Homo sapiens: one gene and its partners. The protein of the gene in region 1 purifies or fractionates together with the protein of each later gene. This does not show direct contact. Each region holds a gene or a part of one and is shown on either strand. Other genes may lie near its edges.

Region 1 (3,345 bases):
GGCAGCTGGTGGATGCATCTCAGATCCCGGTTCCTCTCGGCGAATGCTGCTTGCGAATGTGTGCGACGCCTTCCGTGTGATGGAAACACACTACCCCGTCGGACTTCGAATTTCTACGTGGATGTGCATGAAGCTCTTGTTTTCGATGTGTGTTTGTAAAGGGAAAATTAGTACTCTGCTCGACTCTTGGTAACATGAAATTCTGAATGTTACTTTATCATGATTGCACTGCAACTTTTTCCTTAAAATAACTGCTTTTGTAAGAACGGTGATATTGGAGTGATTAGTATAAATTCAATGGAATTTGAGAAGCAATGGCAGCGGGATAATTTAGAGTCACTGATATTACGAGAGGGGTCTTTTTGTAAACCTCCTTTTCAATGTCAAAGCGCCAATTTATAAAACGCTGCAGATGTAGAGGTTATGTGCAACTGATCTGTCCAGTTTGTGTATGAAATGGATTTGATAAAGTTTTTGCTAGTTATTTACTACATTTTGGGATTAATAAGTGATTTATATGCATATTTTTCTGTAAATCTACAGTTTTTTGTACAAGATATTCTACAAGTTATGAAGCTAAGGGAAGAAAATGCCAAAGATACCTCTAGTTATGTTGAACACAGCCAGCACAGTTTCGACATGTCAAGGAAGAGCTGTTTCAGTAAAGAATGAAGTGAAAACACTTATTTAGGAAAATGTTTCTCAACAATAAAATGTATAGTTGTTTCTCTCTTGGTAGAGTTGGCGACCGGTTCTTTCGAATTTTGTATTTATTTATTTATTTATTTTTGAGACAGAGTTTCGCTCTTGTTGCCCAGGGTGGAGTACAATGGCACGATCTGGGCTCACCACAACCTCCGCCTCCCGGGTTCAAGCGATTCTCCTGCCTCAGCCTCCCGAGTAGCTGGGATTACAGAGGTGCACCACCACGCCCGGCTAATTTTTGTATTTTTAGTAGAGATGGGGTTTCACCATGTTGGTCAGGCTGGTGTTGAACTCCTAACCTCAGGTGATCCACCCACCTTGGCCTCCCAAAGTGCTGGGATTACAGGCGTGAGCCACTGCGCCCGGCCAGATTTTGTGTATTTCTTATAGCCCTTTACTTCACTGCGCCACTGCCTGGTGTAGACATCACATATCGGAGCTAATACACGACACTGGCAACAAGGCTGAATCCTTGAACTGTTGTCGCCTGTTGAGAAAGGATTCCTTTTCCGGAACAGAAGTGCAGAGGAGGAGAGAGCGGAGAGTTAAAAGCTGGCACCCAGGCATGTGCCTGTCTGAGAAATCAGAGCCGTGCTCCTGAGCCTCGGTGAGGAGCTCCGAGGGGCTGTCAGGAATTCCGCATGAAGATGTAGCCCCTGACCCCGACTGCCTCAGAGCAGGGCTGACCGCAAAGACCTCCAGGGCCGCTCTCTTCCCTGGTCACACTGTTGAACGTTTCTCTGTGGCTGGGGGTCGCAAATGAGGGACTAAACCAAAAAAACGAAGCGAGAAAATACCCAGATGTTCCTAGTTCCTGCTGATGATCTGTAGATTCTTAGAAACTTAAGGGACCCAGCTGGGTGTGATGGCTCACACCTGTAATCCCAGCACTTCAGGAGGCCGAGGCAGCCGGATCAGAGGTCAGGAGTTCAAGACCAGTCTGGCCAACGTGATGAAACCCCGTCTCTAATAAAATTACAAAAATTGGCTTGGCATGGCAGCGCACACCTGTAATCCCAGCTACTCAGGAGGCTGAAGCAGGAGAATCACTTGAACCTGGGAGGCAGGGGTTGCAGTGAGCCGAGATCGTACCACTGCACCCCAGCCTGGGCGACAAGTGAAACTCCATCTAAAAAAAAAAAAAAAAAAGAAATTTAAGGGACCCTAGAATCAGGGGCAAAGCCTGTATTCAGAGATGGTGGAACCGAGGCCCAGACAGGAGAGAGGAGCACTGGTCCCTGCGGGTGGACCCAGGCTTGGGGGTGTCTGGCCACCTGGGCACGGCAGCCACGGGGACAAAGTCCACGGGGAGGCAGGGGTGTGGTCTGTGGGCAGAAGGTGAACCCTGAGGGGACAGTGTCTGGAGAGGGTGGCCAGCCTCGTGCAGGCACGCTGCAAAGACCTGTGCACCCTTCTCTCTGCTGTGCCACAGGTGGGGTGAGAACGACAGGGCCGACCTCCCAGCTGCAAACACAAGGACACTGAGATGCACAGAAAGGAGAGTCCACGTTGAAGAAACCCACGTTGAGGGGCCTCTTCTCCCTCCGTTCCCAGCTCGCTGATGGTGAAGGGTAAGGAAATGGATCCTCCCATTGCAACATTAAACCAGGCCAAACCTGTATTTTTCTCTTCCTTCCTTTTTCTTGTTTTGTAATTGATGTCTCCTCGGGACTACTGATAATGTCCTAGAAAGAATAAAATAAAGTTTCCCAAGGCTTTGTGACTCAGAGCTCTTTGGAGGTGTTCACCGAATGCACGGGCCGCCCGGAGGCCTTGGCCCTCCAGGGAAACACCACCAGAAGTCCCCAGAAGCGGAACATGTAGCAAGGAGGCTCCCCGAGATCTCCCAGAGGGAGCACAGCCCTGCCAAGTTATTGGTTTTGGACTTCCGGCTTCCAGAGCTACGAGAAAATAAATATTTGTTATTTAAGTCACCAGGTTTGTGGCGATTGTTACGGCAGCCTCAGGAAACTCCTACAAGGAAGTGAGTTACGCTCACGGCAGAAAGTGCTACAGCAAACCAAGGCAGAACAAAAACAGACGAAACCTAATACAGACCGGACTAAGTAGAAGACTGTGTGTTTGGGTGGTGAATATACAAAAAACATAAATATAAATTAAACCTTAGAGAAACTTTGTCATTTTCTTGTCATGTTCAGAGGTGTGGCCTGTTGCTTTAGATCTACAGATTCTTACACACTTTCTTCTCTTAAGAAAGGCTGGCACCTGCCTTTTAAAACCACTGTCCTGGCAGGGCGCGGTGGCTCATGTCTGTAATCCTAACACTTTGGGAGGCTGAGGCAGGCGGATTGCCTGAGCTTAGGAGTTCAAGACCAGCCTGGGCAACATGATGAAACCCCGTCTCTACTAAAAATACAAACCACTAGCCGGGCATGGTGGTGCACGTCTATAGTCCCAGCTACTAAGGAGGCTGAGGCATGAAAATTGCTTGGACCTGGGAGGTGGAGGTTGCAGTCAGCTGAGATTGCACCACTGCACTCCAGCCTGAGTGACAGAGTGAGGCTCCATCTCAAATAAAAATAAAACCACTGTCCCTACCCTGCCGCAGTGCTGAACTCGAGCTGATACTGGTTTTTCTCCTCTACATTCCCATGATGACAGCAAACCCCGCTGGAGCAC
Region 2 (3,732 bases), on another chromosome or scaffold:
GGCAGCAATATGGAAACTAAGTTGGAGAGGAGGCCTTTATTACAATTCAGATCTCCTTGAATAATCATAGAAATAAAAGGTGGTAAGAGCTTGAAGTGAGGCCAGAGGAGTGGGAATGGTGTTGGAACTGAGATCTTCAGAAGGGAGAATCATCTAGACTTGGAGATGGGTAGTGAGACACCTGACAATGATGTTTAAGTTCCCAGTATAAGGACTTGGGAGGATATACCATATACTGAGATGGGAGCAGTTTTTAGGGGTATTTTTTCTTTCTGCTGGTAAAACTATAGTAGTTCCTTCTACTTAACTTGAAATTTATTCCAATACTGTGAAACTGTGAAACTCTATTTGGCATGTGGTCAATATTTTAATCAAATAAATATAACCTTTTCCTAGACTTTTTCCCCCTAGTATTTTTGTGCAGCTCATTTTCCCTCCACCCTCTCTATTCCATAGTAAACTACAGTCAAGGAACTCTAATAGGAAAATCTCATACAACTTTATGTGTTCTACTTTGCAGGGTAGTAGATCATGCAGAAGAAAACAAGATGAACTCCAAAAACTTGGGGGTGATATTTGGACCAAGTCTCATTAGGCCAAGGCCCACAACTGCTCCTATCACCATCTCCTCCCTTGCAGAGTATTCAAATCAAGCACGCTTGGTAGAGTTTCTCATTACTTACTCACAGAAGATCTTCGATGGGTCCCTACAACCACAAGATGTTATGTGTAGCATAGGTGTTGTTGATCAAGGCTGTTTTCCAAAGCCTCTGTTATCACCAGAAGAAAGAGACATTGAACGTTCCATGAAGTCACTATTTTTTTCTTCAAAGGAAGTGAGTTTGACCTTTATAGAATTATATTAGAACTTTGTAATATTTATGTTAATAAGTTAAAGATCTTTGAACTGTTTATTTTGAGGTTATGTTTTACTTCTTCCATTTTAAAAATTATCTTGCATCAACAGGATATCCATACTTCAGAGAGTGAAAGCAAAATTTTTGAACGAGCTACATCATTTGAGGAATCAGAACGCAAGCAAAATGCGTTAGGAAAATGTGATGCATGTCTCAGTGGTGAGTAGCCATGTAAAAAAAAAATATGTTTGCTGGCTTAAAATTTTACCAGTAGAACCGTGATTAAAACCAAGGTGAGGGGCAATGAGGGAAGCCAGAGAATGAAGCTTTATTAGTTAACAAATCTTGGCTAGCCATTGAGAAAGTTGCCTTTTAGTGTATCTTGCATTTAAATGAATGTCATTCTTCATAAAAGTCTTTCTTATAATAAGACATCTTGGAGTTTATAATGTTTTTTGTGTTCCTTCTGAATTTTGTTTTTGTTTTTGAGTTTTGCCATCAGCTAAAATCAAGGTAGAAATGTGTTGAGCAATGTGATATTCGTTAGTATCTTCCAGTTCCGTAGTTCAGTGCATTGAGCTAACTGCTCATACAGAGTCAACTAGACTCCTGAAATTCAAAAACTTTAGAGTCCTACTTTTTTTTTGACATGCTTTTTACCTGTGGCCTACATTTAACCTATTAAACACAGAGATGTGTATGTCTTTTTTCTTTCCTTGACTGCGATCATTTTATTCACTTATTTTCTCTTTATAATATTAGTTGCTGTCATTGCTAGTTGTTAAGCTGGTGGAAAAGCTTCCATTTGTATTGTCATTTCTACATTGTTATAGCTAAATTCCAGTTTTTTACATTGCAGCCATATATGTTAAATTTAATGTGTAATCAAGTATCAGTGATCATAGGGTCTAAAAAGGAAAGGAGGGCCGGGCATGGTGGCTCACGCCTGTAATCCCAGCACTTTGAGAGGCCAAGGCGGGCAGATCACCTGAGGTCAGGAGTTTGAGACCAGCTTGGCCAACATGGTGAAACCCCGCCTACTAAAAGTACAAAAAATTAGCCAGGTGTGGTGGTGGGCGCCTGTAATCCCAGCTACTCGGGAGGCTAAGGCAGGAGAATCACTTGAACCCGAGAAGCAGAGGTTGCAGTGAGGCGAGAACGTGCCATTGCACTCCAGCCAGGGTGACAAGAGAAACTCCATCTCAAAGAAAAAAAAAAGGAATGGAACTAACATTCACCAGGTACCTGCCTGTTCTGTGCTAAGCACTGTGCTTATTTGTTTGATTCTATTTGATCTTCATAATAGTTCTGTGCTATAAAGTAAATAGCATTATCCTCATTCAACCCATAACTAACCGTCTGAAAGAGACTAAGTAATGCCAAAGGTTGTTCTCTTAATACATTTGAACCCAGTTCTGATTACTAAACCTAACCTTTGTGGCTATCCCATGAAGCTCTTAGGAACAGTAATAATAATAAATGTCACTTTCCAGTGTTTATTACATACAAGATAATTTTAAGCACTTTTCCTAGTAGATCATTTAGATCACACAGCAACATAGATACACATAGGAGTCTTATTTCGCAGATGAAGACACATAGGACAGTGATATTGCCTAGCCCAGTGCAGAAGTGGCAGGCAGGGCTGAGCCAGGACCCAGGCAACTGTGCTTCAGAGTCTGTGCTCTTCTCCATTATGCTCTAAGTTTTTCCCTCAGAAATTTAAGAATATATGTTGGTGCCTAGAGTCCAATTGCAAGGAACCAGGTCCCTTAGAATGCTCTATAAATGTGTGGAGGACCTGGGAAAGCAAATCAAAAGAGCCTTGGGCCAGGTGTGGTGGCTCACACCTGTAATCCTGGCACTTTGGGAGTCTGAGGTGTGCGGATCTTGAAGCCAGGAGTTCAGGACCAGCCTGGCCAACATGGTGAAACCCTGTCTCTATTAAAAATACAAAAATTATCTGGGCATGGTAGCAGGCACCTGTAATCTCAGCTACTCAGGAGGGTGAGGCAAGAGAATCACCTGAACCCAGGAGGCAGAGGTTGCAGTGAGCCAAGATAATGCCACTGCACTCCAGCCTGGGTGACAGAGTGAGACTCTGTCTCAAAAAACAAAAACAAAACAAAACAATAAAAGAGCCTTGGAACCCAGGGAAGAGAGGCCAGCAGTCCCAGGTGTGGAAGAAGTTCAGATGAGACGATGACCAAAAAGTGACTCTGGTGGGCACCTGTCTGCAAACCACTGCCTAAGAGATGTGGGTGAAGGACTGGGTGGCAGAGAAAGGATTGCATGCTGTGCTTGGGGCCGACTGTAGCTTAAAGTCAGGATGGCGTCAAGGCACAGAGTTGGTGGATGTGTTTCAGCAGTGAACAGAAAAGCAGGAGAATGGAGGGCTGGAACATTCCTGGAATTGGAATTTTTTAGGATAGATGCAGGAACTGAGGCTTCTAAGTGAGAAAACATGGACTGTGGGTTCGGACTATAGAAAGAAAATCCGGGAGCAGGTGGGGAAAATGGCACTTTTTAACTTAAAAGCATTCAGCCTTCATTTGACAGAATGGATTTTATGCTTTATTAGTTGATCAGATATGGAGAGCATCTAAGGCATCTAATATCATATGCTCTCACTGGGTTGAGTGTAACTGAAAAGCAGATTGAGTGAGTTGGCAAAATCCTTGGGATTCAGGGCACACTTACATCTGGTTGGTGTGTAAATTAGTGTCACTTTTCTGAGGTTAATTTTCCAATGTCTGCCTATTGAAATTGTGATAGTCTTTTGACCCAGAAAGTACTTGTTCATGCACAGCACTTAAAAAGAAGTTACTCAGCAAGTGTTTTTTTTGTGTTTTGTAGCTGTTCATGTTGATTTAAA
Region 3 (3,500 bases), on another chromosome or scaffold:
TTGATGAGCAGCTGGTAAACTTGGAGCACATATAAGACAATCAAAGGAAGTCTCCATATAAACTTCTCCATGCAAGGAAAGATGGTTTTTCCATTTGCCCTTTTCTGAGCACTTTAACTTCCTCATTACATGTTCCAAATTGTTTCAGAGACTATATAAACCATATGTTTGTTAAACGATAGAGACAAACATGGGGAAGTCTGATTAGCATCAGCTTCCCTCAGGAAGGGGGTTTCTTTCCCAACCCTGTTTAGCCTGCTCCATACTTATTGGACATGGGGTAAATAAGCAGAGATGGGAAACGGGCTTTAAACAGCTGCACCTGGCTATAGAGTTTCTGCTCCTCTTTCTACTGAAGCACTACTGTTAAATGGAATTGTTTCTTTTTATAGTAGATTTCCTAAAAGAGCAGTAAGGAAGGTGTAAAGACCTACATTATTTATTGCATAATGCAGAAGTTTACTGGCCTAGACGAAGTAATGATATTGGATATTGGGTGATAGTAAATTACTTTAAAAACAAACAAAAAGGCCAACATGTTTCCTGCATTTTGTTTTGGACCCAGAAGTCCAGTGGGCCAAGTTCCTTGTTCAGGCATATTCAATGACACAACTATGCAGATGTGTGGAAATAAACACTTGAGGTGAAATCATATAGCTGTGATTAGGGCAGCCACAGTTTATCATTCAAACTGGACATTTGAGAGGACTACAGGCATAAACTGAGCCCAGCAGCCATCCTGGGTCTTAATCAGTGGCATTGTAGTTGTCATTGCTTAAGAGAACAATTAATAAACATTTTAAAAAAGTATCTACTTCTGTCTTTATCCCCCAAAGACAAGAAATTAAAGCATTTATGACTGAAAATTGAAAAAGAAGCTGGCTGGGTGTGGTGGATCAGGCCTGTAATCCCAGCACTTTGGGAGGCCGATTACTTGAGGTCAAGAGTTCCAGACCAGCATGGCCAACATGGTGAAACCCTGTCTCTACTAAAAATACAAAAATTAACCAGGCATGGTGGTGCATGCCTGTAATCCCAGCTACACGGGAGGCTGAGGCAGGAGAATCACTTAAACCTGGCAGGCGGAGGTTGCAGTGAGCTGAGAGTGCACCACTGCACTCCAGCCTGGGTGACAGAGTGAGACTCCGTCACACACACACACACACACACACACACACACACACTTAACTAGTTTATTCATATTAGCTTATATTCATTTTCTGTGAACCCTTGGTTTTGAATTCTATTGGGATGACTTGATAGGTGAAACCACTTTATGTTGACAACATTTTCGAATTTGAGTCATCTCAAATGATGACTTTATAGCATATTCATTTCTTTGACTTTTATTTCTTTGGAAATACCTACAACGCCTACACACATGTCATTGTTTAGGGCCTTACCCCATGTTCACAATATTAGGTTGCTTCCATTTCTCTTTCTGAAGCAGAATTGTTTTTAAACAGAAACAGGTGCCTTTGACTAACAGGTTTTTTAACTTGTAAATTGGACCAAAAGAGTAATCATAAGGGGCAGAGAGAAAATAGTAACAAAGAAGCCTCAGTTCATCCTCTTTTTCTCTTGTTTTTGATGCTGTTGTTGTTGAGGTTTTGTTATGTTTGCTGTTTTATCCTGGTTTTGGTTTTTATCCTGAGTCCTATGCTGTTCAATGCATGTCTGATATAGTATCTATACAACATGATAAACTTGTTCTGTGTTGCTAAAAATTGACTGCTTTGTTTCTAGTAAACATAGTCTTTTAAAAAATGACCGTATTTGTTTGTAAAGCGTATTATTCACCTTCCTCTTTTTATAAACATCATGTCTACTTTGATAAGTCTCATTTTGGATGTGAGAAATATTTGACATATCCAAGTGTGGGTGTGCTGGTCTGTAGGCAGTCTCAGGAGAACTTTGGAGATAATCGTGCCACACAATCTTTTAATTAATACAGATTACTATCCTAGGAACAATTAGGCTTGATCAGAAGGCAATATTTTGCTTTTATAGATAACTGCATTTGCTGTTTTTTGAGGGCAGAATCTATCAAACCAAATTTTAGAAAAGATTATAAAGTTTTTCAAGGAGCATGACAAAAGAGTGGTTGACAGGTAGATGTCCATTCTGAGGAAAATAAATTCCAGGAAATCTTGAGCAAAGTGGCCTGTTCTGAAATTCCTCCTAGTGTACTGGACTAGGCACAAGGAGTTTTCTTTTCTCTAAGCTCCCCTGACATCATTCATTTGCATTTATTATTAAATGAGGTAATTATTCGATATTCCTAGCGTATATTAGAATTTATTGCATATTCATCCACTTATGTGACAGTTATTTATTGAGCACTCTCATGTTCACTCGCAAGGGTGCAGGTGCAGAGTAGAGGAAAAGCTGTATGTCACCAGGTTCGGGATTTGCCAGGCAAATACAATCAAGGAGATGAATGTGTATGCAAGATGTGATTTAACTGGGTACCAAGAAATGCAAGCTAGCTAATTTAATATGCATGAACAAGAGGACATGAGGGAATTAAGGGGGGGAGGCGGAAGGTTGTAGAGTCAATGGGTTGTAAGAACTGGTGAGTTAAATAATGGTTGGTGTTGAGGATTAGAGGAGGTGAGTTGGAAAGAAAGGCCATGCTGGTTAGAGAGTGGTATGTTTGACACTGGGATTACAGAGAGTTTGTAGTTGATGGTAATGACAAGGACTAAGGTATAACCATGGATTTGTGGCTGAAGTAGGGCAGAAAACAAGATCATCGGAGGAGAGTAAAGTCGGGGAATTGAGGGTACAGGGTAATGGAAAGATCCTTTACAGGAGACTTCAAGAAAGAAGTAGTGTTGGGGACTTGATGTAAATGACCGAGAGAGAGAGGGAGAGAGAGAGAGAGAGAGAGAGAGAGAGAGAGAGAGAGTGTGTGTGTGTGTGTGTGTGTGTGTGTGTGTGTGTGTGTGTATGAAGAAGTATTGTTGGAGAGAGACAGAGAGCCAGCAGTGAAACTCAAGGGAGAGGATCGGAAACGATCCAGGGGTCTATAGATGACTGTAGTTATGAGTTAGAGACTGATGCCATGAGCTTCAAAGCTGATGATGTTTCAGGAGGAGGAAGTGATCATTGTATAGAAGCAGGAATAAAAAGCAAGCAGGCAGAGAGCTCTCAGGAGACGCCTTGTTCTCTAGGGAGAGCCAGGTTTCTTTTAAGGCAAGAATGTGAAGGGAGGGTTCAGAGACGAGGCCAAGTATTTAGAAGACTTTACTAGTTTCTTAAATGAGGGAATTGCATTCCCAGAGGGTACAGTGGAAGGGGTTCAGGAACCAGCTGAGGAGTGGAAAAAAGTGGGGCCAGATTGGGCATGTTCACAGTGCGATGGGAATGGGAGTGCAGGAGAAAGAAGGATATTGGGGTTCCTGAGCCTAAGCAGGAATGGAGGGCATAATGAGATTAGTCCTGGTGGTTTGTGAAACAGGTGGTGAGGCTCTGAGTGTGGGACACAAGGATGGGTT

Evidence for each region.
Region 2: the proteins of RAB40B (region 1) and ARHGAP29 purify together in Homo sapiens (affinity purification with mass spectrometry, with the first as the bait; one study listed by BioGRID). This does not show direct contact.
Region 3: the proteins of RAB40B (region 1) and ARHGEF26 purify together in Homo sapiens (affinity purification with mass spectrometry, with the first as the bait; one study listed by BioGRID). This does not show direct contact.

The regions. Positions count from the first base shown.
Region 1 is NC_000017.11:82,654,460-82,657,804, reverse strand, and holds the end of RAB40B (ras-related protein Rab-40B), read left to right. Parts: 3' UTR 1-2,832; downstream 2,833-3,345. UniProt on the Homo sapiens protein: RAB40B small GTPase acts as substrate-recognition components of the ECS(RAB40B) E3 ubiquitin ligase complex which mediates the ubiquitination of target proteins.
Region 2 is NC_000001.11:94,174,956-94,178,687, reverse strand, and holds part of ARHGAP29 (rho GTPase-activating protein 29), read left to right. Parts: intron 1-520; coding exon 521-836; intron 837-967; coding exon 968-1,076; intron 1,077-3,732. UniProt on the Homo sapiens protein: GTPase activator for the Rho-type GTPases by converting them to an inactive GDP-bound state. Has strong activity toward RHOA, and weaker activity toward RAC1 and CDC42. May act as a specific effector of RAP2A to regulate Rho.
Region 3 is NC_000003.12:154,236,390-154,239,889, forward strand, and holds part of ARHGEF26 (rho guanine nucleotide exchange factor 26), read left to right. Parts: intron 1-3,500. UniProt on the Homo sapiens protein: Activates RhoG GTPase by promoting the exchange of GDP by GTP. Required for the formation of membrane ruffles during macropinocytosis. Required for the formation of cup-like structures during trans-endothelial migration of leukocytes.